Linked DNA regions of Homo sapiens. The protein of the gene in region 1 purifies or fractionates together with the protein of each later gene. This does not show direct contact. Each region holds a gene or a part of one and is shown in the gene's direction. Other genes may lie near its edges. The genes, in order: DHDH, BLTP2, ARHGEF4, NFXL1, EIF2AK4, SBF1 and ZNG1C.

Region 1 (4,627 bases):
ACATGGTGAAACCCTGTCTCCACTAAAAATAAAAAAAATTAGCTGGGCATGGTGGAGGGCGCCTGTGGTCCCAGCTACTCAGGAGGCTGAGGCAGGAGAATCACTTGAACCAGGGAGGCGGAGGTTGCAGTGAGCTGAGATCACACCACTGCACTCCAGCCTGGGGATAGAGTGAGACTCCGTCTCAAACAAACAAACAAACAAATAGCGGTAAGTGGGGCACATGCCTATACTCCCAGCTACTCAGGAGGCTGAGGCGGGAAGATAGCTTGAGCCCAGGAGTACAAGGCTGCTGTGAGCTATTATCACGCCACTGCAGTCCAGCTAGGTAACAGAGTGAGACCCTATCTCTAAAATAATTAATAAATAAAACAAAATAATTAGCCAGGTGTAGTAGCCAGTAGCTACTTTGGGTCCCAGCTACTGTAGTCCCAGGTACTAGGGTGGCTAAGGCAGGAGCTAATTCCTTGAGCTAAGGAATTTGAGGCTGCAGTGAGCTATGATTGTGCCACTGCACTCCTTCCTGGGCGACAGAGCGAGACCCTATATCAATAATAATTATAATAATACAGTATATTTTACATAATAGACCATAGAGCTCAATGAATCCTCCTCACAACCCTATGTAGGTAGATGTTATCATGATCTCTGCTTTCCAGAATAGAAAAGTGAGGACCAGAGAGGGCGACCTCTTGTCCAAAAGCAATACAGCCAAGAAGGGGCAAGGAGGGTTTTGAAACCAGTCGGCCAGGCTCTGGGGCTCCTAACAAGCAAAGCAGCCTGGTTTCTAAAACTATAGCTTCTGGAAGCAGCCAATTCACAGGTCTTTACCTCCTGACTGTGAGACCTCCAAAAAATGACCAGGGATCTTGGAGTCTGTTTCCCCCTTTGTGAACTGGGGACAATAGAAGCTACTTCCCAGGTCTGCGGGGAGAAATTAGGAACGAAGAAGGTAAAGCGCAGAGCTGAGGAGCTGGTCTACAGGTGCTCTATACATATTAGTAATAATTATTAAGTTTGCTGTTACAATCCTCTCTCTCTCTGTGAACAACCCCTAATGATGCGTGGCTTTGAGAGCAAAAAAGTCAGGGCAAAGTTTTGCCACAAAGTCCAGAGGGCAAGACATTAAATCTAACTCTCAAGGATTGGTGTTGGCAAGAAAGCAAACCTCTCCTCCCCACGCTGTCCTTACCCCGCGTATCCGACGAGCCTAAAGTCATAGGTAAGAGATCTGTAGAAGCGACGTCAAGGTGTGGTTCCCTCTGTAAGGCGGAGCTAAACGGTGCATTCGCCCAGCGGGGAAGCTAGAACTAAATGACCGCTCTGCCGACTGGAGCCAACGAGAATCGGCGTAGGCGCAATACGGGCGGAGGATGGGGACCCGCCCCCGGGGTGGGCGGGGCGTCAGGTACTTAATTCGCGCCTGGAGGGACCGAAGGTGCCGAGGGCTCCGCATCGCAACCATGGCGCTGCGCTGGGGCATCGTGTCTGTCGGCCTCATCTCCAGCGACTTCACAGCCGTGCTGCAGACGCTGCCTCGCTCTGAGCACCAGGTCTGCCCGCCCTCCGGATTCTGGGGAAGAGGAGGCGGGGGGCGGGACTCCAGAGTCTAAAGGAGGAGGGAGTTTAGGGTTCAGGACTAGTGAGTGGGTCGTCATTGCAGTGAAACGTCTGTTTCCTTGCTACCTCCTTCTCCATCTCTGTTCTGCAAACCTGTGGGGAAAAGAAAGATCAGATTGTTACTGTGTCTACGTAGAAAATGAAGACATAAGAAACTCCATTTTGAACTGTACTAAGAAAAATTGTTTCTGCTTTGAGATGCTATTAACCTGTAACTTTAGCCCCAACCGTGTGCTCACAGAAACATGTCCTGTATTGAATCAAAGTTTAATGGATTTAGGGCTTTGCAGGATGTGCCTTGTTAACAATATGTTTGCAGGCAGTATGCTTGGTAAAAGTCATCGCCATTCTCCATTCTCTATTAACCAGGGGCACATTGCACTGCGGAAAGCCGCAGGGACCTCTGCCCAAGAAAGCCTGGGTATTGTCCAGGGTTTCCCCCCACTGAGAAAGCCTGAGATATGGCCTCGTGGGAAAGGAAGACCTTACATCCCCTAGCCCGACACCAGTAAAGGGTCTGTGCTGAGGAGGAGTAGTGAAAGAGGGAGGCCTCTCTGCAGTTGAGATAAGAGGAAGGCTTCTGTCTCCTGCTCTCCCTGGGAATGGACTGTCTCAGTGTAAAGCGGACCATTCCCATTCCTTCTATTCTGAGATAGGAGAAAACCTACCTGTGGCTGGAGGCGAGATATGCTGGCAGTGATACTGCTCTGTTACTCTTTGCTACACTGAGATGTTTGTGTAAAGTGAAACATAAATCTAGCCTACGTGCACATCCGGTCACAGCACCTTTCCTTGAACTTATTCATGATACAGATTCCTTTTCTACATAGACACAGTAACAATCTGATCTCTCTTTCTTTTCCCCACACAAACCTGAGTGTCTTGAGGTTTGGAAAGGCCTTGATGTAAGCTACTATGAAGATAATTTCAATATTGGGGGATTTAATAACGGCTTTCCCCCAGATCTCTCTTTCCCAGGGCCCAAATGTCCAGCCCCCGTCATCTCTTCCCCCAGGACCACGTCTCCCCTTCCCCTGGCCAGAGCCTCCTCCTTTGCCTCCCTTCCACCCAGTTTCCACGCCTGCCTCAGCCCCTCAAATCCGATTCTTGTGCCCCTCCAGGTGGTGGCGGTGGCGGCCCGCGATCTGAGCCGTGCGAAGGAGTTTGCACAGAAACACGACATCCCCAAGGCCTACGGCTCCTATGAGGAGCTGGCCAAGGACCCGAGCGTGGGTGAGTGGCGAGGGCGATGGGGGTGCTGGCCGCCGCCCCTGGAGCGGTGCCCCCTGGCTGCCCCCTGGGAGATGCAAGGCTCCTCAGGATGGTCCAATCCCTTTGGGTTCCATAAAGACCTTTGGCTGGGAGGAGAACTATAAAACGGGCTTGGTCTGGGACTGGCTGTCTAGTAGGTGTTAAACTACACTTAGCGTTCGAGACCAGCCTCGGCAACGTAGCAAGACCCAATCTCTACAAAAAATAACAATAAAAATAAATTAGCCAGGTATGGTGGCACGCACCTGTAATCCCAGCTACTGGGGAGGCTGAGGCAGGAGAATCACTTGAATCCGGGAAGCAGAGGTTGAAGTGAGCCAAGATCGCGCCACTGCACTCCAGCCTGGGCGACAGAGTGAGACTTGGTCTTAGAAATAAATAAATAGGCCGGGCGCGGTGGCTGACGCCTGTAATCCTAGCACTTTGGGAGGCCAAGGCGGGCAGATCATGAGGTCCGGAGATGGAGACCATCCTGGCTAATACGGTGAAACCGCATCTCCACTAAAAATACAAAAAATTAGCCGGGCATGGTGGCGGGCGCCTGTAGTCCCAGCTACTCGGGAGGCTGAGGCAGGAGAATGGCGTGAACCTGGGAGGTGGAGCTTGCAGTGAGCCGAGATCGCGCCACTGCACTCCAGCCTGGGCGAAGAGTGAGACTCCGCCTCCAAAAAAAAAATTAATTAATTAATTAAAAATTTTAAAAAAGAGAGCGAGAATGGCGAGAGGTAACAGCCCCTTCCTAAGGACAGCTCCCTAAGGGAGACAGGGGTGTGACCGACCACCTGGTCCCTGGGTGCTAGGGCGGGGCCTCGAAGTTGTGGGCGGAGCTCGGCTGTCTGGGTGGGCGGGGCTGCTGACCTCTTGACCTACTCCCACCCTAGAGGTGGCCTACATTGGCACCCAGCACCCCCAGCACAAGGCGGCGGTGATGCTGTGCTTGGCGGCGGGCAAGGCCGTTCTGTGCGAGAAGCCCACGGGCGTGAACGCGGCGGAAGTTCGCGAGATGGTCGCGGAGGCCCGATCCCGAGCCCTCTTCCTTATGGAGGTGAGGGCAGAGGAGCCCTTCCAATATCCAGCGTAAAAGTGCTTGCCATTAAATATGGTTGCCAGTGCGCGGACGGGGTCAGTGCATTTGCCAGGATGTATCTGAATCTCCTTGGCAGCATCTATTACCGTGAAAGCCATTGCTTTTGGCCCTTAGCAAACACGGCAAGGCTTACTGAAATTGCTTGGATCTTTTGTCAGTCTTTAAGAAAAAGATGCCGGCCGGGCGCGGTGGCTCATGCCTGTAATCCCAGCACTTTGGGAGGCCGAGGCGGGCGGAGCACGGGGTCAGGAGATCGAGACCGTCCTGGCTAACATGGTGAAACCCCATCTCTTCTAAAAATACAAAAAATTAGCTGGGCGTGGTGGCGGGCGCCTGTAGTCCCAGCTACTTGGGAGGCTGAGGCAGGAGAATGGCGTGAACCCGGGAGGCGGAGCTTGCAGTCAGCCAAGATTGCGCCACTGCACTCCAGCCTGGGCAACACAGTGAGACTCCGTCTCAAACAAGAAAAAAAACAAACAAAAAAAAAAACAAGAAAAAGATGCCAAGAGTGAAAGTGGCATAGAATGGCAATGGCTTAGTTTGGGTGGGGTTCCAGGTAGAGGTTGAAAGGACCAAGGAACCCCCTACAAACCTGCAGTGCAGTGGCGCGATCTCGGCTCACTGCAACCTCCACCTCCCAGGTTAAAG
Region 2 (3,959 bases), on another chromosome or scaffold:
TTACAGGCGTGAGCCACCGCGCCCGGCAAGGCCAAGTGCTCTTAATTTTTTTCCTTTCCCAGGCTAATCTGTGAGGTGAGCTTATGTAAGATCAACAGCAAAGTTCTAAAGAGTGGTCAGCTGGTAAGTATGCCATGATCATTCAGATGCCTCATTTCCTCCTGGGCGTAAAGTGTGAAGGAGCTTAGGGCTTACATCCTAGGTTCTTTGACCTTAGGGGGTTCCCTCAAGTCAGTACCCAGTGTTCCAGATCACCACATTTTGACCTAAAACTTCCAAACTTTCTTACATACACCTTAGAGGCTTATCATCCCCACAGGAGGACACCTGCCTAGTGGAGCTTTCACTGGCCCTGGACCTGTGTCTAAAGGTGGGCATTAGCAGTCGGCATCTCACTGCTATCACTGTGGATGTGTGGACACTCCATGCTGAACTGCATGAGGGCCTCTTCCAGAGCCAACTGCTGTGCCAGGGCCCAAGCCTAGCATCTAAGCCTGTTCCCTGTTCAGGTAAAGCCCCAGTGATTGAGCTTCTTGGCTGCCTTGTTCTCAGGGTTTGTTTTGGAAGTAGAAAAAATAGTGGTCTCACTGCTTATTTAGATGTGATTCACTAGTCACCATGGACTTTGACCCTAAGGATAGTTAGAGGAAATAGGGCATTTGCTTGTGCTGAGTGGCAGAACCAGCATTGAGTGGGCACCTATCATGAGTTAGACCTGTACTATGGGTTTTTTTTTTTTCCTTTTTTTTTAAAAAAAAAGATGGAGTCTTGCTCTGTCACCCAGGCTGGAGTGCAATGGCGTGATCTCGGCTCACTGCAACCTTTAACCTTCTGGGTTCAAGTGATTCTCCTGCCTCAGCCTCCTGAGTAGCTGGGATTACAGTCATCCGCCACCATGCCTGGCTAATTTTTGTATTTTTAGTAGAGACGGGATTTCGCCGTGTTAGCCAGGATGGTCTCGATCTCCTGACCTCGTGATCCGCCAGCCTTGGCCTCCCAAAGTGCTGGGATTACAGGCGTGAGCCACCATGCCTGGCCTTGTACTATGTGTTTTATATACAGTTGACCACTGAACAACACAGGTTTGAGCTGTGCGGATCCACTTATGTGGATTTTTTTCAATAAATACAGTTGGCTCTCCATATCTGTGTGTTCCGCATCCACAAGCAAGTGTGGATGGAAAATGCCAATATTTGCAGGATATGAAACTCACCAATATGGAGGGCTGACTTTTTGTATACATGAGTTCCCACAGGGACAACTGCTGGACTTGAGTATGTGCGGACTTTGGTATCTGCAGGGGGTCCTGGAACCAAAGCTCCAAGGATACCAAAGGATGACTGTATATTCTCTAACTAAATCCTCAGCATTTCACAAATAAGGAAACTGAAGCCTAGGAAGGTTAGCTAGGTAACTTGACTGAAGTCATACAGGCAGTCAGTAGTAAAAATGATGTTTAAATTATTTGGCCCTAAGGTCCACATTCTTTTCATTTACCAACCTGCTCCTTGTACTCTTTAGGTTTTTAGAGACTGGAGAAAGAAGTACTGCAGGTGCCTGGATCTCTGGGGCATTCGCCTTATGGTCCATCCAGCTTAGGCATTTGCTTAGCCTACTTTATGTGGGAGGATTTGACCATAGAGGCCAGGGCATTTCGGGAGAACTGGGAGTGTTAAGAATTGATGGTTCTTACGTTATTCATTCATATTTTCAGAGGTGACAGAAAACTTAGTTGAGCCAACTCTGCCTGGCCTATTCCTTCTCCAGCAGCTGCCAGACCAGGTCAAGGTTAAGATGGAGAACACAAGCGTGGTATTGTCCATGAATAGTCAAAAGAGGTGAGGTCTCTCCTGACACAGAAGATGGGAGAGTGATAGTGGGAGCTGTATGTTGGTATCTCTGTAACCAGCCTAGTATTTGCTGAGCTTGTCTACGGGGAGAAAGGAAGTAGAAATGGTTACATCCATGTAGTGTGGGAAAAATTAAAAAAATTATTATTATTTTTGAGACGGAGTCTTGCTCTGTTGCCCAGGCTGGAGTTCAGTGGTGCGATCTTGGCTCACCACAACCTCTGCCTCCCAGGTTCAAGCGATTCTCCTGCCTCAGCCTCCCGAATAGCTGGGATTATAGGCACGTGCCACCACGCCCGGCTAATTTTTTGTATTTTAGTAGAGGCAGGGTTTCACTGTGTTGGCCAGGATGGTCTCGATCTCCTGACCTCGTGATCCCCCTGCCTCGGCCTCCCAAAGGGCTGGGATTACAAGAGTGAGCCACTGCGCCTGGCCAAAAAATAATTACTTTTAAAAAATAAAAGTAAAAGAAGTAGGAATGGCATTCCACATCTTCCTGAGCTGGAATCTGTCTCGGTCCAGGCACCTGACTTGGACTCTGAAGCTGCTGCAGTTCCTGTACCACCGTGATGAGGATCAGCTGCCCCTTCGAAGCTTCACAGCAAACTCTGATATGGCACAGATGAGCACTGAACTGCTGCTGGAAGGTTCATGGGTCGGGGTACTGGTACTGAGCGAGAATGGGAGGACTAGATACTCTCTTTGCTCATGCCCCATATGGTCTCCTTAATCTAATCTCAGTGTAACTGGGGAGTGGAAGGAGGGAACATACTGAGAGAAAATAGCCCCAGCTCACAAGTTTTGATGACAGTCTGTTGATCCCTTTGCCGGCTTCTGACCCTCTCCCAGTTTTACCTCTTGCCCTTCCAGTGCTCTCCTCTGATCTGTCCTCTGGCCTCTTACAGATGGGTTGTTGTTGTCCCAGAGTCGCCAACGCATTGTCTGCCTCAACTCCCTCAAGGCTAGTGTGCAGGTGTGATGATTGTGGTACCAAGAATTGTTCCTTTCTCTATTCTCCCGCTACATTATTTCGTTTTGAGTTTGTGAAATAAAACCCAAACCCACAGTTCTGGTCTTCTTATTTCAGGTGACCACCATTGACCTCTCAGCCTCCCTAGTTCTGAACACTTGCATCATTCACTACCGGCACCAGGAATTCTCTCACTGGCTGCACCTGCTAGCACTGGAAACCCAAGGGTCTAGTTCACCTGTTCTAAAGCAAAGGAAAAAAAGGTCAGTCTGATCTTTTTCAGCCACCTTCTTGTCAGTTGGATTCTCTGGGATTCTTTTGGTCCAAATTGGCATCCTGTGTTAAATATGTATTTGGTTGTTTGACCTCCTCAAATCCGAGTCTCAACAGCAATCCTGTTTTATATATCTTTCCCATTAGACTAGACTCCTTGATAGCAGAATGCTGTCCTCTTTGTTTTTATGTCCTCGGTGCTCAGTGTAGTGTTTTATACAAAATAAATGTTTGTTGAACTGAACTTAAATGATAAGGAATGTCTTTGTCTTGCCTGCCTTTGATTGTAAGGTGGCAGTCATGTCTTTGTGTAGTGCTTCTATTGTGCTGCACAGAGAACTTAAGGTTATGGTTTAGAAGTGATGCTTCTTGGTTATTTTAGGTTCAAGCGTATAGTATTGCTGGTGTTCATTGTATTTGGCCTATGAAAATGATAATTTTATATGAGTCAACCTAATATCCTTTTGGGGTTCCTGCAGATTACCATTAAGAGTAGCAATAAACTGATGAGTTCAGCCTTTTATCTTCTAGGTGTGTCTCGTCCTAAGAATCACAATAAAACTCTGAATTCTCACTCTGATTGTGAGAGCTTCAGAAACTGTTCCATGATAGGAAGCTGCAGTTCTTTTCTTACCAAACAATGATGTCTTGTTCCTATGCAGAACCTTCCCCCAAATCCTGGCTCCCATCATCTTTAGCACCTCCATCTCCAATGTCAACATTTCCATTCAACTTGGAGATACACCACCTTTTGCCTTGGGATTCAATTCTATCTCTCTGGGTAAGGCTCTCAGATGGAATAGGAACAAGAATCTGTCCGTTAGTGGAGCTAGGCCCAATTGATGGCCACAGTGGCTCCATGCAAT
Region 3 (4,749 bases), on another chromosome or scaffold:
GGGTTGTGTATTTTCACTGGACCTCCCCCCTCGCCAGGGGATTAGCACTTTAAGCCTTCAGAGAAGAGCGAATTAACTTTTGCTAAGCACCTGTGAGGTTTAATTTCTCACGTACTCTCCATGGCAACCCCACCAGGCGGTCATTCCTCTCGAATGTTAAAGATACGTGTTTAGAGCAGATGATCATGATTACACAACTGGTGTGCAGCACAGCCAGGTGCCCAGATCCGAATCCCACACCCTCCTCCCACCACCATGGGCCTCAGGGACATGCTTCTAGCACAGTCATGGACCCTGAGTGACATAAAGGCTGTGACAGGGGACGCAGGATCTTCAGATGGCCCCACAGTGCCTCCTCTGAGTATCTATCTCCCAAGCTTCTCGCCTGGCCTGGTTGCTGTGAGGGCCTGGGGAGAGGCAGAGACAGGTTGGGTGTACGGAAAATGCACACTCTGCCAGGCACCCCTGACACGCACTGCTGACCAGGCATAGCGTTCAGTGGGGCTAGGACTTGGACGAGGGTGCAGGCTTGAGCAGGGGTGCAAAAAGCCAGTCTGGGCAGATGCTCTCCCTCTGTGGGGCGCCGATCTCAGAAATGGTGGACAGAGCAGGGCTGCAGTATGGTGCACATGGGCCTTGGGGTCTTAGCTTTCGTGGGCCTCTTCCTGCATAAAATAAAATAGTTAAAATTAGAGTTTACAACTGCATTCATATAAAGATGAATATACTCCAGGCTAGATTCATTATTATTTTATTATACTCAGTTTTTTTCTTCTGATTTAAAATAGTGCGGTCCTAGGGCTGGTTAGAGTGTTTCCTGGCAGGCCCTGTCTCCTTAAACCCCTGCAAAGAAAGCAGCGAGGACTTCCCTTTGCCCCTTAGCAGAAAGCTGCGCTCCTTAATGGTTACGGGTGTGACCATTCACTTACATCCTATCTGCAGGACATACCTGGAAAGGTAAGTGGGAGGCAAGAGGGAGCTGGAGGCCAAGACTTCGGTCCCAGATATCCTAGTCCACATTTGTCCCCACCAGGTGTGTGAGTGCCGGCGCGCTGCACAGCCTCCCTGGGCCTCCGTTTCCTCAACTGGTAAACAAGAACGCTGGGCGGACTGAACTCTGAAAGTTCTGGGAGCTTGACAATCAGAACTCTCAGCAGAGAGGCCGCCCCTGCTCTCAGGAGGGCGGAGGCACCTGAGTCTCCAGTGCGGAGGACAGGCCGAAGCGCTGCGTTGGAGATGTGCAAATGCGCAAGAAGCGTGCTGCTTTCTCTCTGAGAAAACACTCCTAGGCTTCAAGGGGGCCCAAGAGCTCGACTGGGCGGGATGATCCCGGCGGCCCCTGGGCCGGGTCTGTGGACGGCTCTGCTGTGTGCCTGTGCGTGCCCAGTCCCGCGGGTGACCAAAGCCCAGGGGCGGGCAGGGCAGGAGCCTGGACCTCACGTGCCTCCAGTGGCCAGGTTTGCGGGGGCGGAGCGTCCGGGCGAGGGCGCGGGGGCGGACCCTAGGGCGGGGCGCGGGGTGGCGTCGGTGGAGCCGGCTCGGCGGCGCGGCTCGTAGTGCTGCGGCCGGGCTCCGGGCGTCCCGGCGGCCACCATGCTCAGCGTCGTGCACTTCCTCCGGAGCTTCTTCAAGGTGAGAGCCGGCGTCCGGGACTTGCGGTCGGGCTCCCGGCGCCCTGCGCGGGTGGGGAGGAGCACAGCCCGCGCTGGCTGCTGCGCCCCGGGCCGTCCCCTGGGCACCCGGTGGGTGGGGACACCCTCGTGGCTCCCCGCCGCTCCCAACTTTCCGACGTGCAGACCGGAGGCGGCGTCCTGCAAAGTGGGGCCGTCTCGAGCGCGGGGAAGGACGGGGCTCCGTTGGGGGCGGTAGGGACGGCGGCCCGGGGCGAGCCCCTGAGAGGGCAAGGGCGAGCGCCTGAGCCGGCCTCCCCGCACCTGGACCGTCCTGGGCGCGCGGGGCACTCGGAGCCGCTGCCTGGACCGGCCTGGGCGCGCAGGGCACTCGGAGCCTCTGCCGCTTGGCGCAGTACCAGCTGTTTTGGGAAGGAGGGCTGGTGCCGGCCCGGTGGGTACGGGAGAAGTGGTTGCTGTTGTTATTCCCCAGGCTGAGAGTACGCGAGGGCGCAGCAGCGGCAAGGGGCTGGAACTGGGGTCGGGGCTGTTGGGCTCCTGCTCGGGGTGCCCCCTCTCTGGCCCGATTTCCGGGCCCGCTCACCATCCGGGACCCACTCAGTTGGGACGCCTCCACCTCGCTGCCCCCACAGGAACCCCAAGATGGGCCGGGGGCTCCGGGGCACTGTCAGGGGTGGCCGGCCACAGGTTGCCAAGCCCGACCTCCCCAGGTGAGCCAGCGGGAGGGCGGTTGCGACGCTGGGTGGTGCTGAGCTCCGATGGGCTCCTACTCCGGGAGCAACTGCATGAAAGGAGAGGCGGGGAAGAGCCACCAGCTGTCAGCTGCAGGTCCAGGGGGAGGCAGACCTGTGTGGGGCTGTCGGGGCGGGAGGGCGGGAGGGCGCCCTACTTGGCTGTGCAGCCATCTTCTCCCGGAGTTGAAGACGGGAGGTTGAGGTCGGAGTTCTGTGGCCCTGAGAGCTCTAGTGAAAGGGGCAGGAAGCCAGGTGACCCAGGGCAGACCTGCAGGAGCCCTGCCCTCAGCCTATCCGCTGGCCTGGCATCAGCTCCCACCCCCAGCGATAACGAAGTGATCGCTGGCATCAAGAGTGGAGAGGGCCGGACAGCCGGGAAGGCAGCCTTTCAGGAACCTGTGCTGGTGAGTGTAGGAGATGGCTTGGAAGAGCTCAGACCCCCTTCAAATGCCGACTCTGTCATTGAGGAGGTGTACAATCTTGGGACAATCACATAACCACCTGGGTCTTTGTTTTGAAAAATGTGGGTGATGTTTCCATGCCCTCCACACCTTTCAGGGTTAGTGTGAAGGTCTTATTAGAAAATGTGAGTGTGGCCCGGCGCGGTGGCTCATGCCTGTAATCTCAGCACTTTGGGAGGCCGAGTGGGGGGGGCGGATCGCCTGAGGTCACGAGTTCGAGACCAGCCTGGCCAACATGTCAAAACCCCGTCTCTACTAAAAATACAAAAATCAGCCGGGCGCGGTAGTGGGCGCCTGTAATCCCAGCTACTTGGGAGTCTGAGGCAGGAGAATTGCTTGAACCCGGGAGACAGAGGTTGCAGTGAGCCAAGATAGCACCACTGCACTCCAGCATGGGTGATAGAGCGAGACTCCGTCTCAAAAAAAAGAAAAAGAAAAGAAGGAAGGAAGGAAGGAAAGGAAGGAAGGAAGGAGGGAGGGAAGGAAGGAAAGAAACGTGAGTGTGTTTATGAAGTGGTGAGCCCTGGACCTTGGTTCTGCTGCACCCACAGCAAGGGTGGCAAGGAGTTGCCCAGGTGAGGGGAAGATGGCCGGACAGAATCCAAGATGCCTGGGCAGAATCTGAGTCACCCAGCTGGCCCCAGAAGCTCCAGGAGCAGGTGGAGTGTGGCTGGAGGAGAGACCACTGGACATCTCTGGGCAGCCACCTTGCCTGCTGCTGCCTGGGAGGCTCCTGGGATTTGGCCTTTGTGAAAGTATTCCTGACACACACGGTCCTCCAGTTCCCCATCTATTCAGAGAGGCCTTTCCATACTTTCTGCCTCAGGTCCCTGTAGGTCCTGAGACACCTGAGGCCTCCCCATGCACACCACAGGAAGCATCACCTGTGCCCCTCAGAGGGTCTCCTTTCTGCTGTCCACATGGGAGGGGCTCTGACTGCCACAGCAGTCCACTTCTGGCTGTGTGAGTGTGTCTTGCCGAGCCACCGACAACGTAGTTCATACTTGTTCCTCTCAGACACTGGTCGTAAGGAATACCCCGTGAGGACACAGGTTGTGGGGTGGGCAGAGGAGCTACGTGCTTCAGTCACCGCCTGGTGCCTCCTGGTGTCCCCAGGGATTGGTCCTATGAGGTACCCCTGATGATGGGTGCTGGACTGGGCCAGAAAAGGCCACTTCATTCTGGGAACCTCAGATTGTCTGGGTCTCCCAGTCAGACTCTGTTAGCCAAGATGCAGCTAGTCTCCACCAAGCCCAGGAGGAGGACCCCAAGGCCCCAGGTGTGCCTTCTGGTGGCACTTGGTACAGACTCTGTACAGCACACAGATCTGCTTGGGCACGTTGGGCACCGTGGGATCCATGGGGCATGACAGTCGTGTGGCAGAGTCCCTCCCCGTGCAGGCAGACCAGTCGGAGAGCCTGCACCTGCCAGGGGCCCACACAGGTGCGCCGCCTTGGGGGTCACCCAGCAAATGAGTCAGAGGAGCAGCACACCCAAAAGGAAAATATGTTGTCTCAAAAATCCAGAGGCCCTCCCAGCATCGTGTGTGGGCCAAGCATGACTTTTGATTTCGAGGGTGTATTTCAAAATGTTCCAGACAGCTGGACCCCCTGCTGCCTGCCTGGAGCCGTCACTGAAGTGGCAGGTCCCTGTATTTTCATGGAATGTATGTCCTACTCTCTGGTACATGTATGTCCTAACACTTAGGGTACTTTGCTACTTGGTTTCCTCCAAGACCTATTAGTGTGCAGAAGACCCACATGAGGTCATCAGGAGAGAAAGGTCAAGGTCTTTGTTGGCTAAACCATGGCACAGAATCAGTAAGCCAAGACAAGTCGTGAAGGTGGGATGCTGTGCCCCATGACAGGGAAGCCAACCTACTTCCGTGAATTCCTGAGTACTGCAGCAGGAAGCACACACATA
Region 4 (3,959 bases), on another chromosome or scaffold:
TGTTTTGCTTGGTCCTGACACCTAGGCAACAGTCTCTTTAAGATATTCATTTCTTCATTGAAAACTCTTCTTCCTTTATTATTTCATTTCTGATAGAGTTCCTTACTGGGAAAACTAGAGTGGAAGAAAGCCCTTAAGATGATGACAGAACCTCTTGGAGCGAACTTTATAGCCTGCTTTAAAGATTTCTTTGATTTTGTTTTTTTATATTTTTGCCAACCCATAACAAAAGAGCGTAAAAAGCTGAAACCAAAATAACATTTTTTTTTATGTTTAGAAGAGAAATATTTGGGATTATATCCTAAAATGGTGGCTTAGTACTTAGTCTTTCACAAAGCACAATTAATGGAAAATTGACTGTGCTTGCTACTAACCAATATCAGGTCATGAGAAAGAAGTTATTGGGAATTCATCTAAAAATTGTGTACTTGGATAGATGTATGAAAGTAGGCCAACGATATTATTGTTAATGTTAAATTTTCCAAAGACTTAAATCCATTTTTGCTTGTTTTAGTTTTGAATGAGTAATGTGTTAAATTTGTTATTTAGAACAGAAGTTTTAGCACATTTTAGAGAAATGTCTAAAACTTTATGAGGTACCAGTGTACAGAGAAAAAAGTGTTATAAATCAGAGGCTGGGTGCAGTGGCTCACGCCTGTACACCCAGCATTTGGGAAGCTGAGGTGGGAAGATTGCTTGAGTCCAGGAGTTTGAGACCAGCCTGGATGACATAGTGAGACCCCTCCATCTCTATAAATAATCAAAAATTAGCTGGGCATGGTGGTGTGTGTCTGTAGTCCCAGCTACTTGGAAGGCTGACGTGGGAGGATTGCTTGAGCCCAGAAAGTTGAGGCTGCACTGAGCTGTGATCATGCAACAGCACTCAGCTTGAGCAACAGGTTGAGACCCTGTTACAAAAAAAAAAAGAGAAAAGTATTACAAATAAAAAGTATACAGCTTGTTGAATTTTTACAAACTGAACATAGCCAGGTAACCAAAACTTACATCATTAAACAGAACATGACCAAAATTTTCAACACCTTCCTTGCATCCTTCATAGCTATCACTCTGATTTTGAACAGTACATTTTTTCTTGTTTACTTTATATAAATGGAATCATGCACTATGTACTCCTTGTGTCTGGCTCAATGTTTTGTGGTAAGATTCATTCATGTTGTTGTAGTTTCTTCATTCTTGTTGTAGAGTATCCCATTGTGTGAATATACTAAATTTATGTATTTTACCATTAATAGGCATTTGGGTAGTTAAGGAAACTTTTTAATTGTCAGACTTTTTTTTCAGGCAGTTGCTATCCCTGCCCAGAAACCGTAGATGTGAAGTGTAATTGTGGCAATACAAAGGTGACAGTGCCCTGTGGCCGAGAACGTACCACAAGACCACCCAAGTGCAAGGAGCAATGCAGGTGAGTTTGAAGCTTTGCACAAGCTTCCATCTGATGTTGTACAAATTTAAATTCATATTGGCTTTTAATAATTTAATTTTGCTTTAGTGTTTTAAAATATTAATATTCACAGTATACTCATTCTATATGGAATCAGAAGATATGTAAATAGATAATTGTCCTTTAGATGTAATTATTCAATGACTAAAAGTAATTTTTGAAAATTGTACTTTATGATTTAGTCGACCACCAACTTGTCATCATACAAGTCAAGAAAAACATCGCTGTCACTTTGGTTCTTGTCCACCATGTCATCAACCTTGCCAAAAAGTTTTGGAGAAATGTGGTCACTTGTGTCCTGCTCCGTGTCATGATCAAGCATTAATAAAGCAGACTGGCAGGGTAAGGGAATAATACTATTAGAGAAATAGTGCATTGCTGTGGGTTGTACTTTCTTGCTTTTACTTAGTTTTTCAATGAGCAATGATTAAGCACTTATTGGGAAGCACTGTGCTTGGAGCAGGGTACAAGGTAATCAAGACTTGATTTTGTTTTAAGCAACTCACAGTGTAGGAAAGGAGTGAAACCATTGTTTGCAAATACAGTGTGATAGTTACATTATGATCATGATACAGGTGAATTTGGCAGTCCTCCTTCATATATTGTGGTTTAGGGTTATAGATATCTCCTATAATCTTATTTTAAAGATTTATTCACTTTTTAATATTTTATTTAATATTTATTTATTTTTAGTTATTTAATTTTTTTTTTTTTTGAGACGGAGTCTCACTCTGTTGCCCAGGCTGGAGTGCAGTGGTGTGATCTGGGTCACTGCAACCTCCACCTCCCGGGTTCAGTGACTCTCGTGCCTTAGCCTCCTGAGTAGCTGGGATTATAGGTGCCTGCTACCATGCCCAGCTAATTTTTGTAGTTTTAGTAGAGATGGGGTTTCAGCTTGTTGATCAGGCTGGTCTCGAACTCCTGACCTCAAGTGATCTGCCCGCCTCCGCCTCCCAAAGTGCTGGGATTACAGGTGTGAGGCACCACGTCCAGCCCAGCCTCATGAACATTTATTGAGCCCTTACTAAATATCAAGCTTTTTTTTAGGTGCTGAGGAACAACAGTGAGTAAAATGATGGAGATTATATTCAATTGCTAGATGTTGGAGTTTCCAATTGTTTTTCTCATTTCCTTATTGGAAGTAAAGGAGGCTACACTGCCTTTGTTCTACCATTTATAAACTGGATTCTGTCTCAGTTATTAATATCAAATGTCTGTGGAGAGGAACAATTTCATTTAATACAGATAAAATGAAATATTTCAGTAAGCACAATTTATTGATTATTTGAAAAAATTTCAACCTGCTTGAGCAGAGGATACATGGAACTATTTTCTTAGATTCTTAAAATGGCCATATGATTTAATCCCTCTGACTTAAAATTCTTATGTATTTTATTTGTAGCACCAGCCTACAGGCCCTTGGGAACAGCCTTCTGAGCCAGCATTTATTCAGACTGCATTACCGTGTCCTCCATGTCAAGTTCCTATTCCTATGTAAGTATTAGAATTTCAATTAAAAAAAAAAAACAAAAAACTTTTGACATAGCTTAAAGGGTATCTGAAGTCAATCTCCCTTTTTTCTTAGTTCAGTTCATTATTATTTCAGGCCTAGCCTATCAACTAGTGTGTCTGTCTTAACCTTCATTCTTTTCAAACATGTTTGTCATACTTGCATATAAACCTACTATAGATATCTTTTTTTGAGTCTTTACCCCCAGTTGGAGTTTGATGCCCTTCTTAGCTTTCCATAGCGAGTGCATGCAATTACAAAAACAAATCCAAGGAACATCATTTGTTACTTTTCCCGATGATTCCCATACTGGATTGTAAGCTCCCTGAAGACAGAAGAAAGCCAGGTTTTAGATAAGGCAAACTTGGGGAATATTTAAAGGAAGCCTTGGAAATGAGAGGAAGTAGTTTCCTGGATGGGCCAGTGAATGACTGGGACTGAGCTCTAAGGAGCTGAACCTACAGTAATACGGAATCCTGGAATTTTTTATACTTCCAGCAGAGGTTATGGAGTATAGGGGAAAAAGCACAGAATGCTGAGAAGCAACATAAAGTTAGAAAAGGGGCTGTTGTCTACAACTGAGGTGCCAAATTAAACATTGGTATTTCTGGTGTATTGGTCTTTTAAAGAGAGGATTGTTTTTGTTTTTTAATTCTAAAAGCTTTCATTTCCACAACATTCCTCCCAGTTGAAATAGCATGTATATTTTTGTGTATTGGTCACACAGTCAAGTTGGGAGGCAAAGTGTTGTTAGGAGATATATGCACAAATAGGGTAATTTTAGTCTGTAGATTTAATGGAGGTGGGCTGTGTAGTTAGCAGAGAGGTTTTTCATGTAGGTATTCAGTTATTTGAGACTATTCTTTTACTGAGGACTTAAGTTATAATCATGAGGAACCAAGTTGTTGCTAATATCTCTAAGTTAGAATTATTAGTGGCCTAAAATTTTTCCTTGAGAGAAACAGAAGAGACATTGATATTATAATT
Region 5 (3,959 bases), on another chromosome or scaffold:
TCTCAAAAAAAAAAACAAAAAGAACAACAACAACAACGAATATATAATCCCATTTTGTTTTAAACAAAATATACAACCTATACATAAAAAAATGTCTAGAAGAACGTACCAAATTTTTAATTGTAGTTTTGGTTAGTGGGATTACAAGGGATCTTAAATTACTTTGTTAAGCTTTTCTATATATTTGCAACTCCTTTTTTTTTTTTTGAGATAGAGTCTCACTTTTGCCGAGGCTGAAGTGCAGTGGTGTATACATGACTCACTATAGCCTTAACCTCCCAGGCTCAGGTGATCCTTCCTTCTTGGCCTCCTGAGTAGCTGGGACCGTAGTCATGTACCACCTTGTCCAGCTAATTTTTTTAAATTATTTGTAGAGACAGGATCTCCCTATGTTGCCCAGGCTGGTCTCCAACTCCTGGACTCAAGCAACTCTCCCGCCTCAAGAAATTCTTATATGTATGCTCATTATCAGAAAATACCACACGGTAATTTTTCTGGCTTACATCAGCAATTCTCAACCAACAATGATTTTGCTTCCCAGGGCACATCTGGCAATGTATGGAGACATTTTTGGTTGTCACAACTGGGGAGTTTTACTGGTATCTAGGAGAGGCCAGGGATACTGTGAAAACATCCTAAAGGGTACAGGACTACTACCCCCCAACAGAGAATTTTCTGGCCTAAAATTTCAGTAGTACCAAGATTGGGAAATCCTGGCTTACAGAAAACAAACCTTGCTCTGTTCTTCTCATGCCCCCACCCCTTCTTATTTGCACCTAGCCTTAATAAATTCACCATTAGGTGTTTCTGAGGGAACATAATGTTCTGGAAATCACCAGTATTGGAATTATAGATCTAAATCAAAGACAGAGGTTTAGAAGAGAAACCAAGAAATAGCCAAGTAGTGAGTATGGGGGAACATTACCAAGACACTTAAAAGGCTACATGGGATTTAGTTTTAGCAGGGAAAGGTTCAAAGTTTTTCCTCCAGCAAATGATTATTTCCCTGTTTTCCCAAGATAGAGTGCTGTTGTCTCTCTCAAAGGCTATAAATTAATTCACAGCATTTGAAAGAACATCCATTCACGGCTTTTTAAAGAATATCTTTATTTACCAAATGTTCTCCTGTGGGTGGTTGCCAAGGCTACTGCCATAATGAAGGTGGGGCTGCTGTTATTCATGTTTCCTTGTATTATGAGGGGGGCGGAAAGAACACCCATTATATTTCATTGAAATCAGCTTATTGTGTGGATCCAGGATTTCACGCCCAGCTGAATAAATCAGAATGTTTTCCTTAGGCATTTGTTAACTTAAAAAGACATCCTTTATAATTTTTACTTGCTCTTGACCAAAGCATAACTAAATGCAAATTTTTTGTTTTTGTTTTTCCACCAATAACCAAGAAGATGTTTTTATATTTAATGGAAAAGTGGCTCACTATACATGTAGTTCACTGTAAGTTATGTGTTGCTTGTGCCTTATTGACTGTTCTTTAATTGTTTTTGTTTGCTTGTTTTTAGAGAAGCTTCCGATAATCTTGCAGTGCAAAATCTGAAGGGGTCATTTTCTAATGCTTCAGGTATAATTACTAATTATAATCTGAACATAATGATGCTTATATGTTTGCTCTAAGCACTTATTACTGTAGCTAACTGCTTGTGACACTGGAAATCTATTTTTAAAATAACATATACGCAATAAATTGTACCACATGGGATGCATCCCTATGCTTTGAAATCCACATCCTAGAAAAGGATAAAACAACTGGAATTTAGCTGACTCTTCTACTCTATCTCTTATTTTTACAAGTGATTTAATCTTCCTTTTACTCAATTTATTGTACAAGTGAAATGTGTATAATTTTCCTGGAGATTTTCCTCATACAGAGGATTGAAGGAAGTATTTTGAAATCCCTTGAAGAAGGACACTATACACATTTTGTTTTCGTGAAAGCCAAGAGGGCACAGTGGTGATAGTTATGCCTTTGCTTTCATCACCTCTAGCAACCTTACTTCTTTTTTAAAGAAGTGTTCCAATTAAGGCCATGAGAAGACATATTTGGCTTTTAACAGAATTGAGTCTTTCCCATTCTCTTCTGTTAGCACTAACTTTGTGTTGCCATCAGATTTCCAATTCTTGCAGGAATTTAAAGAAGTATGCAGGTTTGGTGATATTCAGCTTGATTTTCTTAGGCCCCTGAGGTTTTGATGACTCCTGTTGCCTCCCTGCCCCTTCCACCACCCCCCAACCCCTGCCTGAGGAGAGAAGCATCAAAACTGCTGGGTGTTGGGGTTCTGGGCTCCTCACCTATCCGGTGCAGATGGTTGTAGGGATAGAAAACACAGCCCAGTCGTGATCTAGCCCTTAGAATCACGACAGGATGTCTACTAATAAACTCTGCCATCTCTCTGTAGTATGTTGTAGAAAGTGGGACCAGATAAGGCCATAAATTCTGAAACTCTCTTGGTCTCAGGTTTGTTTGAAATCCATGGAGCAACAGTGGTTCCCATTGTGAGTGTGCTAGCCCCGGAGAAGCTGTCAGCCAGCACTAGGAGGCGCTATGAAACTCAGGTACACTGGGTCAGGGTTTCTTTGGCTTTCTAATATGAGTTACAGAAGAGAAAAACAACAACAGGAAAGGAAAATAAGATAAACATGGAATTTCTTGGAAATATTTTTTCCAAGAAAAAAATTTTTCTTCCAACTTGCCTAACTGGGTGGCTTCTGGCTCCAGGATTCCCATCTGTCCTTCAGAGAGGGGCCATTGTGCACTGTGGGCACCTCAAGGCAGCTGTTGTCAGAGTGACTGCATCTAAATGAAAACTATCTAATCTGGCTCTAAAGGTAGTTGAGGTTTGTTTGTGCTCTAAATAGCAAAGTAGAAGAGGCCGATGACAAGACTTAAGGCAGGCTTCTCATTCCATACATGGTTTCGGCATTTGCTATATGCCTACTGGTGTGCTAAGGGCTGTGTAAAATGTAGAAAACATTAACATGGCCCCAGTCCTCAAAAGAGTTTATAACTTAGAAGCATATGCATTATATAGAGAATAATAAAAGCAAATAAATATAGGCCAGGTGCGGTGGCTTATGCCTGTAATCCCAGCACTTTGGGAGGCCGAGGAGGGCGGATCACTTGAGGTCAGGAGTTCGAGACCACCCTGGCCAACATGGTGAAACCCTGTCTCTACTAAAAATACAAAAATTAGCCAAGCGTGGTGGCAAACGCCTGTAATCCCAGCCACTCGGGAGGCTGAGACAGGAGAATTGCTTGAACTGGGGAGGCAGAGATTGCAGTGAGCCAAGATCATGGCACTACACTACAGCCTGGGCAACAGAGCAAGACTTTGTCTCAAAATAAAATAACTACAGTAGAACACTGAGTTAAATTTATAGAATATGAATGTTAGAGTATGCTGTGGACATATGCAAAAGAGTGAGTGTTAAAAGAGAGCAGTCAATTTTAGAAATGTAATCAGACTGAAATACAAAAATCAGGTACTTTATTTTTGTAAGCTCTTCTAGCTGTTTCTCAGGATTTGGGTGGAAACCTATTTTTCCCGTCTTCCTACTGCCTTCATCACCTACCAAGTTTCAGTTCTCACACCATGTCCTCATTGCTGCCACCTCTCCCTTTTTCCCAATTTAGCTTCATACTATCATCTCTCTGTCTCTGTGTGCACTGTTTCACTGCGCTACGCCTTTATAAGGAATCATTTCAAAATTATGAAGAGATAATTGACAAGGATTATTAAACAAATGGTCAAGATAAGTTATAAAAACCTCATTTCCCCTGAGATCATATTGCTAGACACCCCTTTCTGAGTGGATTAAGAGCAAATCTTCTTTTTTTTTTTTGAGACAGAGTCTCACTCTGTCACCCAGGCTGGAGTGCAGTGGTGCAACATCAGCTCACCACAACCTCTGCCTCCCATGTTCAAGCGATTCTCCTGCCTCAG
Region 6 (3,959 bases), on another chromosome or scaffold:
AGGCTGAAGGAGGTCTCTGGGGTGGGATCGGAGAATGGGGTGTAGCGGCAGGGGCTTCTCTACCCTCAGGTGGCCCTGGGGTCTGCAGCTGTCAAGCAGACTCTCCATACGGAGCTATTTTTAGGGAGCTGTGGCTGATCTGGTGCCAGATGAGGGCCCAGTGGGTGGGAATGTTTCCACCCTGGGATCCTCAAGCCTCCTGGTGGGTGGGGGGCGGGTTGGGTGCTCTGACCCCCTGTTCTTGTCCTCAGGGAGTGGGGAAGGCCAGGGCCAGATTCTGCAGCGCTTCCCAGAGAAGGACTGGGAGGACAACCCATTCCCCCAGGGCATCGAGCTGGTGAGTTGGGGGCGTGCTGAGACGGTGCTGGCAGGTGGGGAGGGCAGGTGGGCACAGCCCTGCCCTTGTCCCTGACTGAGGGGCCTCCACAGTGCCCGGCCCCCCGCTGGGCTAGGGACAAGACAGCAGAGCCTCTGTCGGGGGGTTTGACCGGCTTGGCCGGCGGCCTGTGCGGTGCTCATGTCACTGTGTCATGTTGTCACTCACTCATGATGGTGGGGACTGTTCTCCCATCTCCTGGTCCTTGCCCCAGGTGGGGAGGTCAGAGGCTGTTACTCCCTTCACCCGGAGAGACTGAGGCCCAGGAGGCCACGTGTCCCCAGGGTCTCCAAGCAAGGAGCTGCCTGTGTGTGTTGGAGCCTCCAGGCCTGGTGGTGCAGATGCTGGGGCGGGTGGGCTGGTTCCTGCCACAGGTGTAGGGGGAGGAGCTGACTGCTGAGCCTTCCCTGCAGTTTTGCCAGCCCAGCGGGTGGCAGCTGTGTCCCGAGAGGAATCCACCGACCTTCTTTGTTGCTGTCCTCACCGACATCAACTCCGAGCGCCACTACTGCGCCTGCTTGACCTTCTGGGAGCCAGCGGAGCCTTCACAGGTCAGCTTGGGGCCTCTGGGTACAGCATGAATGAAGCTGCATCCTTGGGCCGTGGCCAACTCCCCCTGCCCCCGTCTCCCCCTGACCCCCAGCAGGAAACGACGCGCGTGGAGGATGCCACAGAGAGGGAGGAAGAGGGGGATGAGGGAGGCCAGACCCACCTGTCTCCCACAGCACCTGCCCCATCTGCCCAGCTGTTTGCACCGAAGACGCTGGTACTGGTGTCGCGACTCGACCACACGGAGGTGTTCAGGGTGAGGCCGGCAGCCGGGGCGGCGAGGCACGACGAGGGTGCTTCCATCGGCTGTCCCACCACTCCCCGCTCTGGTCATTGCAGAACAGCCTTGGCCTCATCTATGCCATCCACGTGGAGGGCCTGAATGTGTGCCTGGAGAACGTGATTGGGAACCTGCTGACGTGCACTGTGCCCCTGGCTGGGGGCTCGCAGGTGAGTTTTGGAGGCAGCTGGTATCTGCACAGCCACAGGCCCTCCTGCTGGGGCCCTGGTAGGTATTTGGAGCCCAGCCAGAGCCACACACAGCTGGAGGCCTTGGATGCTCCCTCTTGCGTCCTCGTGCCACCATTGCCCCCAACAGTCCTGGCCTGCTTACCTGGCCCTCGCACCTGTGCTCTGGGCCTGTGTCGTTCAGCCTCTCTGTCCACTCCTTTGATGGTGTGTGCCTGTCTCTGGATGTTGATGTCAGCTTGTTTGTCTGCTCCCTGCCCTGTGCCTGGGTGTGTTGGAGTGTCTAACCGTGTCTTTCTGCCCGTCTGTCCTGTGCAGCTGGACTCTGTTGAGGAAGGAGCGGTATGGATTCTTTGTTTCTTCCGCCCACCTAGGCCCCATCCCTACCCCCAAGTCAAAAGCAGCCACTCCTGTCCTGAGTTTTCTCTGCAGCTGCTTGGGACAACAGAGGCAGGGCATGGCGTTTCCCTCTTGCCATGTTGCCCATCCCAGCCAGTCCCACCTCGGGTCTGTCAGTACACCAGGGTCTGCCTGGGGACACAGAGCTCTGGGCTGACTCTGGGCTGGCTCTGGCCAAACTACTGAGCCCCGATCCTTTTTTTGCTGCAGAGGACGATCTCTTTGGGGGCTGGTGACCGGCAGGTCATCCAGACTCCACTGGCCGACTCGCTGCCCGTCAGCCGCTGCAGCGTGGCCCTGCTCTTCCGCCAGCTAGGTGAGCCTGTCTGTCCCACCCCCGCATGGCTTCCCCTCGGGGACTGGTAGTTAGGGATGTGGGTTCTCACTCTGCCTGGGTGGGGGCCCAGGGTCCTCTCCAAGCTTCTCTTCTTCCTTTAGGCATCACCAACGTGCTGTCTTTGTTCTGTGCCGCCCTCACGGAGCACAAGGTTCTCTTCCTGTCCCGGAGCTACCAGCGGCTCGCCGATGCCTGTAGGGGCCTCCTGGCACTGCTGTTTCCTCTCAGATACAGGTGACCCCTGCCCGGCCCTCCCAGCCCCTTCTCCTGGCCCCTTTGCCCAGCCGCGTCCCCTGGCTCACTGCATCCTCTGGGGCCTGCACAGCTTCACCTATGTGCCCATCCTGCCGGCTCAGCTGCTGGAGGTCCTCAGCACACCCACGCCCTTCATCATTGGGGTCAACGCGGCCTTCCAGGCAGAGACCCAGGAGCTGGTAAGGGCTGTGCTTTGTGTCCACCTCACGGCCCAGGCCTGCAGGTCCCTGACTGCCGGCTCCCTTGGTCCGCAGCTCGATGTGATTGTTGCTGATCTGGATGGAGGGACGGTCACCATTCCTGAGTGTGTGCACATTCCACCCTTGCCAGAGCCACTGCAGAGTCAGACGCACAGTGTGCTGAGCATGGTGAGGGGCACCATGGGCAAGCGGGAGCCTTGGGGGCCTTTGGGATGTGGCTACCTGGCAGCACGGGGAGCCTAGAGCCGGGGCCAGCGTGCAGCTGCCTGCTCCATTCTGTGCTGGCAGGTCCTGGACCCGGAGCTGGAGTTGGCTGACCTCGCCTTCCCTCCGCCCACGACATCCACCTCCTCCCTGAAGATGCAGGTGGGGGTCGTTGCTGCTCCTGCATGGGGACCCCAGGCACTTAGGCTGCCCCCACTCAGGTCTGCTGCCACTGACACACAGGGCCCCACCCCCAGGCTGGCCCCGGCTCCAGTAGCAGAAGCAGGAGCCTGGGAGCAAAGCAGCTGCCAGCAGTTAGGAGTGGTGGTCGTGAGTGGTGCAGGCGAGGCGGCAGGGGCCCAGCAAGGGGCTGGAACTTGGCGTCTGATCACAGGAGCCCTTGAGGGTGCTGAGCCAGGAGTGCCTTGTCCAGACAGTTTCAGAGGAGCTGGTGGCCCTGAGTGCAGAATGGTGGGAGGGGCAGAAGGATGGGAGCGGGGCAGCTTGGGGTGGGTTGGGGTGTGGAGAAGCTCCTGGGCAGCCTGGGGTGGGGATTGGCAGGACTGGCTCTCACCTGCACTCAGCTCTTCTCCCAGGACAAGGAGCTGCGCGCGGTCTTCCTGCGGCTGTTCGCTCAGCTGCTGCAGGGCTATCGCTGGTGCCTGCACGTCGTGCGCATCCACCCGGAGCCTGTCATCCGCTTCCATAAGGTGGGGTGCCTGGTGGCTGGGCGTGGGGTAGGAGATAAGCGCATGGTGGAGACCCCTGAGGGACCGACCTCCTTCTGTCATCCAGGCAGCCTTCCTGGGCCAGCGTGGGCTGGTAGAGGACGATTTCCTGATGAAGGTGCTGGAGGGCATGGCCTTTGCTGGCTTTGTGTCAGAGCGTGGGGTCCCATACCGCCCTACGGACCTGTTCGATGAGGTGCACCTCCACCCTGCCCTCCCAGCCCCCTGCCCTGGCTCCGCCTGACCATGGCTTACCTAACCTCCTGCTTACCCCGCTAGCTGGTGGCCCACGAGGTGGCAAGGATGCGGGCGGATGAGAACCACCCCCAGCGTGTCCTGCGTCACGTCCAGGAACTGGCAGAGCAGCTCTACAAGAACGTACGAGGGTAGCAGGACGGGAGGGCGTCGTACCGCCTTGATCCCTGGGCCCCTGCCCCACACCT
Region 7 (3,735 bases), on another chromosome or scaffold:
CCAACAAAATGAGCCTCAATAAATTTTAAGAAAATTAAAATTATATCAAGCACTTTCTCAGACCACAGTGGAATAAAACTGGAAATCAACTCCAAAAGGAACCTTCAAAACCATGCAGATACATGGAATAACCTGCTCCTGGATGATCTTTGGGTCAAAGATGAAATCAAGATGGAAATGTAAAAATTCCTCAAACTGAATGACAATAGTGACACAACCTATCAACCTCTGGGATACAGCAAAGGTGGTGCTAAGAGGAAAGTTCATAGCCCTAAATGCCTACATCAAAAAGTTGGAAAGAGCACAGACAATCTAAGGTCACATCTCAAAGAACTAGAGAAACAAGAACAAACCCAGCAGAAGAAAGAAGATCAGAGCGGAATTAAATGAAATTGAAACAAAACAACAAAAAAATCCAAAAGATAAATGAAACAAAAAGCTGGTTCTTTGAAAAGATAAATAAAATTGATAGACCGTTAGCAAGATTAGCCAAGAAAAGAGAGAAAATCCAAATAAGCTCAATAAGAAATGAAACGGGAGATATTACAACTGACACCACAGAAATACAAAAGATATTCAAGGCTACCATGAACACCTTTACATGCATAAACTAGAAAACCTAAAATAGATGGATAAATTCCTGGAAAGATACAACCCTCCTAGCTTAAATCAGGAAGAATTACCCTGAACAGACCAGTAACAAGCAGGGAGATTGAAATGGTAATTAAAAAATTACCAACAAAAAAATGTCCAGGACTAGACGGATTCACAACAGAATTCCACCAGATATTCAAAGAAGAATTGGTACCAGTCTTAAAGACACTATTCCACAAGAGAGAGAAAGAAGGAATCCTCCCTAAATCATTCTATGAAGCCAGTATCACCCTAATACCAAAACCAGGAAAGGACATAACCAAAGAAGAAAACTACAGACCAATATCCTTGAACATAGATGCTAAAATCCTTAAGAAAATTCTAGCTAACTGATTCCAACAACATATCAAAAAGATAATCCACCATGATCAAGGGGTTTCATACCAGGGATGCAGGGATGGTTTAACATACACATGTGCGTAGCCAAAGCAAGACTAAGCAAAAAGAACAAATCTGAAGGCATCACATTACCTGATTTCAAACTTATACTATAAGGCCATAGTCACCAAAACAGCATGGTACGGTTATAAAAATAGGCACATGGACCAATGGAACAGAATAGAGAACCCAGAAATAAACCCAAATACTTACAGCCAACTGATCTTCAACAAAGCAAACAAAAACGTAAAGTGGAAAAAGGATACCCTTTTCAACAAATGGTGCTGGGATAATTGGCTAGCCACATGTAGGAGAATGAAACTGGATCCTCCTCTCTCACTGTATACAAAAATCAACCCAAGATAAATTAAAGACTTAAATCTAAGACCTGAAACTATAAAAATTCTAAAAGATACCATTGGAAAAATCATTCTAGACATTGGCTTAGGCAAGGATTTCATGAACCCAAAAGCAAATGCAATAAAAACAAAGATAAATAGCTGGGACTTAATTAAACTAAAGAACTTTTGCAGAGCAAAAGGAAAAGTCAGCAGAGTAAACAGACAACCCACAGAGAAGGAGAAAATCTTTCATAATATATACATCTGAAAAAGAACAAATATCCAGAATCTACAATGAACTCCAACAAATCAGCAAGAAAAGCAGTCCCATCAAAAAGTGGGCTAAGGACATGAATAGACAATTCTTAAAAGAAGATATACAAATGGCCAATAAACATATGGAAAAATGCTCAACATCACTAATGATCAGGGAAATGCAAATCAAAACCACAGTGCGATACCACCTTACTTCTGCAAGAATGGCCATAATAAAAAAATCAAAAAAATAGTAGATGTTGGCATGGATGTGGTGAACACGGAACACTTCTACACTGCTGGTGGGAATGTAAACTAGTACAACCACTATGGAAAACAGTGTGGAGATTCCTTAAAGAACTAAAAGTAGAACTACCATTTGGTCCAGCAATCCCACTACTAGATATCCACCCAGAGGAAAAGAAGTCATTATACAAAAAAGATACGTGCACACGCATGTTTATAGCAGCACAATTCGCAATTGCAAAAACGTGGAACCAACCCAAATGCCCATCAATCAATGCGTGGATAAAGTAACTGTGATATATATACATACAATGGAATACTCCTCAGCCATAAAAAGGAGTGAATTAATGGCATTCACAGTGACCTGGATAAGATTGGAGACTATTATTCTAAGTGAAAGAACTCAGGAATGGAAAACCAAACATCGCTATGTTCTCACTCATAAGTGGGAGCTAAGCTATGAGGATGCAAAGGCATAAGAATGACACAATAAACTTTGGGGACTCAGGGAGAAAGGGTGGGAAGGGGATGAGGAATAAAAGACAAAAATTGGGTGCAGTGTATACTGCTCAGGTGATGGGTGTACCAAAATCTCACAAATCACCACTAAAGAAGTTAACCAACACCACCTGTTCCCCAGTAACCTATGGAAAGAAAGAAATGTCTCATATGTTTCTGCCTAAATTGGTCTTTAATACTTTAGCGATTCTCTTGAGTTTGGATTATAAAATAGTTTTTGGTCTTTTTGTATTTTCTGCTGTAAGCCTGTATGATTATGTAATGGTGAGTAAAATTGCTAGGCCAGATACGCAGTTCTAGGAAGTTATGCAAAGATGTGCTTTAGTATATTATTTTCTACCTTTTTAAATTCATTTTGAGCTTGGCTTTTGAGCCTCTATTTTCCAAGGTGGGGTGTATGTTTTTATAATGTTATGCTTAGCCCTTGTGTATTTTCATCTCTGAGTTTGAAATTTGGGGTTATATTGGCAAAGGGAGGTTTGGGTTTTAATTAGGTGACCTGTTAGAGGAAATGTTAAGCTTCTGTTTCTTTAGGGTAGACAGTGAGAGATTTATCAAGATAAAGAAGAAAAATAAATCCTAAAGTTAATATTCAATACATGATGATGTCACCCTTACTAAAGCCAAAGAGGGCATTATCCTATCATTCTCATCGCTAAGAACTCTTCTCCTCTTGGCACATGCTTATTCAGTTAAAGATAAGCCAAGCCTTTCTTTTGTATTTTTTTTTTAAGAGAACAAATTTACTTTGGTTTTGAGTTTTATTCCTGGCTCTGGGTAGCTTATTTTTTTGACCCTTATTTTCCCCAATTTATAAAATGAAATAGTTATCTTCACTCCCCAGGATTGTTGTGAAGAGTAAGTCAAAAGATACAATGAGGTGACTCAGGCAAAAGTACCTGGCCCTGTGTAGTGAGTACATTGTATGTGTTACATATATTCTTATTCCTGAGAATCCACGAAAGAATGAATTAAATAATGAGGACCCTTTCATCAGGGTTTCTGAGTGAGTTTTTTAAAATACAAGGTAGTAGTTTGTGTAAATACTAAATCCATTGGTACCTGTGCAGAATGTAGGAAATGGAGTTGCTAATTCCAAAAAAACAGCACATATGCTGAGGAAAGTATAATACGTAATATATATGGTTTAAGCAATGTAAAATTCCATGAATATGTTCCTTTCATCTTAAAATTTGTGATTTAAAAAACATTGATATTACTATAAAGAATTATTATTATTTCCCTTGATTTACAGAGTATTGTTACAATCACATTTGAAGTACCAGGAAATGCAAAGGAAGAACATCTTAATATGTTTATTCAGGTGAATGCAATTTTTAAC

The links.
Region 2: the proteins of DHDH (region 1) and BLTP2 purify together in Homo sapiens (affinity purification with mass spectrometry; one large-scale study listed by BioGRID and IntAct). This does not show direct contact.
Region 3: the proteins of DHDH (region 1) and ARHGEF4 purify together in Homo sapiens (affinity purification with mass spectrometry; one large-scale study listed by BioGRID and IntAct). This does not show direct contact.
Region 4: the proteins of DHDH (region 1) and NFXL1 purify together in Homo sapiens (affinity purification with mass spectrometry; one large-scale study listed by BioGRID and IntAct). This does not show direct contact.
Region 5: the proteins of DHDH (region 1) and EIF2AK4 purify together in Homo sapiens (affinity purification with mass spectrometry; one large-scale study listed by BioGRID and IntAct). This does not show direct contact.
Region 6: the proteins of DHDH (region 1) and SBF1 purify together in Homo sapiens (affinity purification with mass spectrometry; one large-scale study listed by BioGRID and IntAct). This does not show direct contact.
Region 7: the proteins of DHDH (region 1) and ZNG1C purify together in Homo sapiens (affinity purification with mass spectrometry; one large-scale study listed by BioGRID and IntAct). This does not show direct contact.

What each region holds. Positions count from the first base shown.
Region 1 is NC_000019.10:48,932,259-48,936,885, forward strand, and holds the start of DHDH (trans-1,2-dihydrobenzene-1,2-diol dehydrogenase), read left to right. Parts: upstream 1-1,440; 5' UTR 1,441-1,463; coding exon 1,464-1,553; intron 1,554-2,741; coding exon 2,742-2,853; intron 2,854-3,773; coding exon 3,774-3,937; intron 3,938-4,627.
Region 2 is NC_000017.11:28,638,439-28,642,397, reverse strand, and holds part of BLTP2 (bridge-like lipid transfer protein family member 2 isoform 1 precursor), read left to right. Parts: intron 1-62; coding exon 63-123; intron 124-319; coding exon 320-509; intron 510-1,714; coding exon 1,715-1,838; intron 1,839-2,372; coding exon 2,373-2,497; exon of another isoform or gene 2,498-2,501; coding exon of another isoform or gene 2,502-2,511; intron 2,512-2,755; coding exon 2,756-2,823; intron 2,824-2,937; coding exon 2,938-3,083; coding exon of another isoform or gene 3,084-3,093; exon of another isoform or gene 3,094-3,337; intron 3,338-3,755; coding exon 3,756-3,874; intron 3,875-3,959. UniProt on the Homo sapiens protein: Tube-forming lipid transport protein which binds to phosphatidylinositols and affects phosphatidylinositol-4,5-bisphosphate (PtdIns-4,5-P2) distribution.
Region 3 is NC_000002.12:130,835,361-130,840,109, forward strand, and holds the start of ARHGEF4 (rho guanine nucleotide exchange factor 4), read left to right. Parts: upstream 1-1,553; 5' UTR 1,554-1,593; coding exon 1,594-1,632; exon of another isoform or gene 1,633-1,634; intron 1,635-4,749. UniProt on the Homo sapiens protein: Acts as a guanine nucleotide exchange factor (GEF) for RHOA, RAC1 and CDC42 GTPases. Binding of APC may activate RAC1 GEF activity. The APC-ARHGEF4 complex seems to be involved in cell migration as well as in E-cadherin-mediated cell-cell adhesion.
Region 4 is NC_000004.12:47,883,343-47,887,301, reverse strand, and holds part of NFXL1 (NF-X1-type zinc finger protein NFXL1), read left to right. Parts: intron 1-1,302; coding exon 1,303-1,423; intron 1,424-1,644; coding exon 1,645-1,804; intron 1,805-2,864; coding exon 2,865-2,956; intron 2,957-3,959.
Region 5 is NC_000015.10:40,027,886-40,031,844, forward strand, and holds part of EIF2AK4 (eIF-2-alpha kinase GCN2), read left to right. Parts: intron 1-1,520; coding exon 1,521-1,579; intron 1,580-2,473; coding exon 2,474-2,571; intron 2,572-3,959. UniProt on the Homo sapiens protein: Metabolic-stress sensing protein kinase that phosphorylates the alpha subunit of eukaryotic translation initiation factor 2 (EIF2S1/eIF-2-alpha) in response to low amino acid availability.
Region 6 is NC_000022.11:50,464,754-50,468,712, reverse strand, and holds part of SBF1 (myotubularin-related protein 5), read left to right. Parts: intron 1-251; coding exon 252-337; intron 338-789; coding exon 790-927; intron 928-1,019; coding exon of another isoform or gene 1,020-1,022; coding exon 1,023-1,181; intron 1,182-1,264; coding exon 1,265-1,375; intron 1,376-2,002; coding exon 2,003-2,108; intron 2,109-2,230; coding exon 2,231-2,363; intron 2,364-2,454; coding exon 2,455-2,563; intron 2,564-2,638; coding exon 2,639-2,752; intron 2,753-2,872; coding exon 2,873-2,950; intron 2,951-3,384; coding exon 3,385-3,498; intron 3,499-3,583; coding exon 3,584-3,712; intron 3,713-3,795; coding exon 3,796-3,894; intron 3,895-3,959. UniProt on the Homo sapiens protein: Acts as an adapter for the phosphatase MTMR2 to regulate MTMR2 catalytic activity and subcellular location. Promotes the exchange of GDP to GTP, converting inactive GDP-bound Rab proteins into their active GTP-bound form.
Region 7 is NC_000009.12:68,293,932-68,297,666, forward strand, and holds part of ZNG1C (zinc-regulated GTPase metalloprotein activator 1C), read left to right. Parts: intron 1-3,648; coding exon 3,649-3,717; intron 3,718-3,735.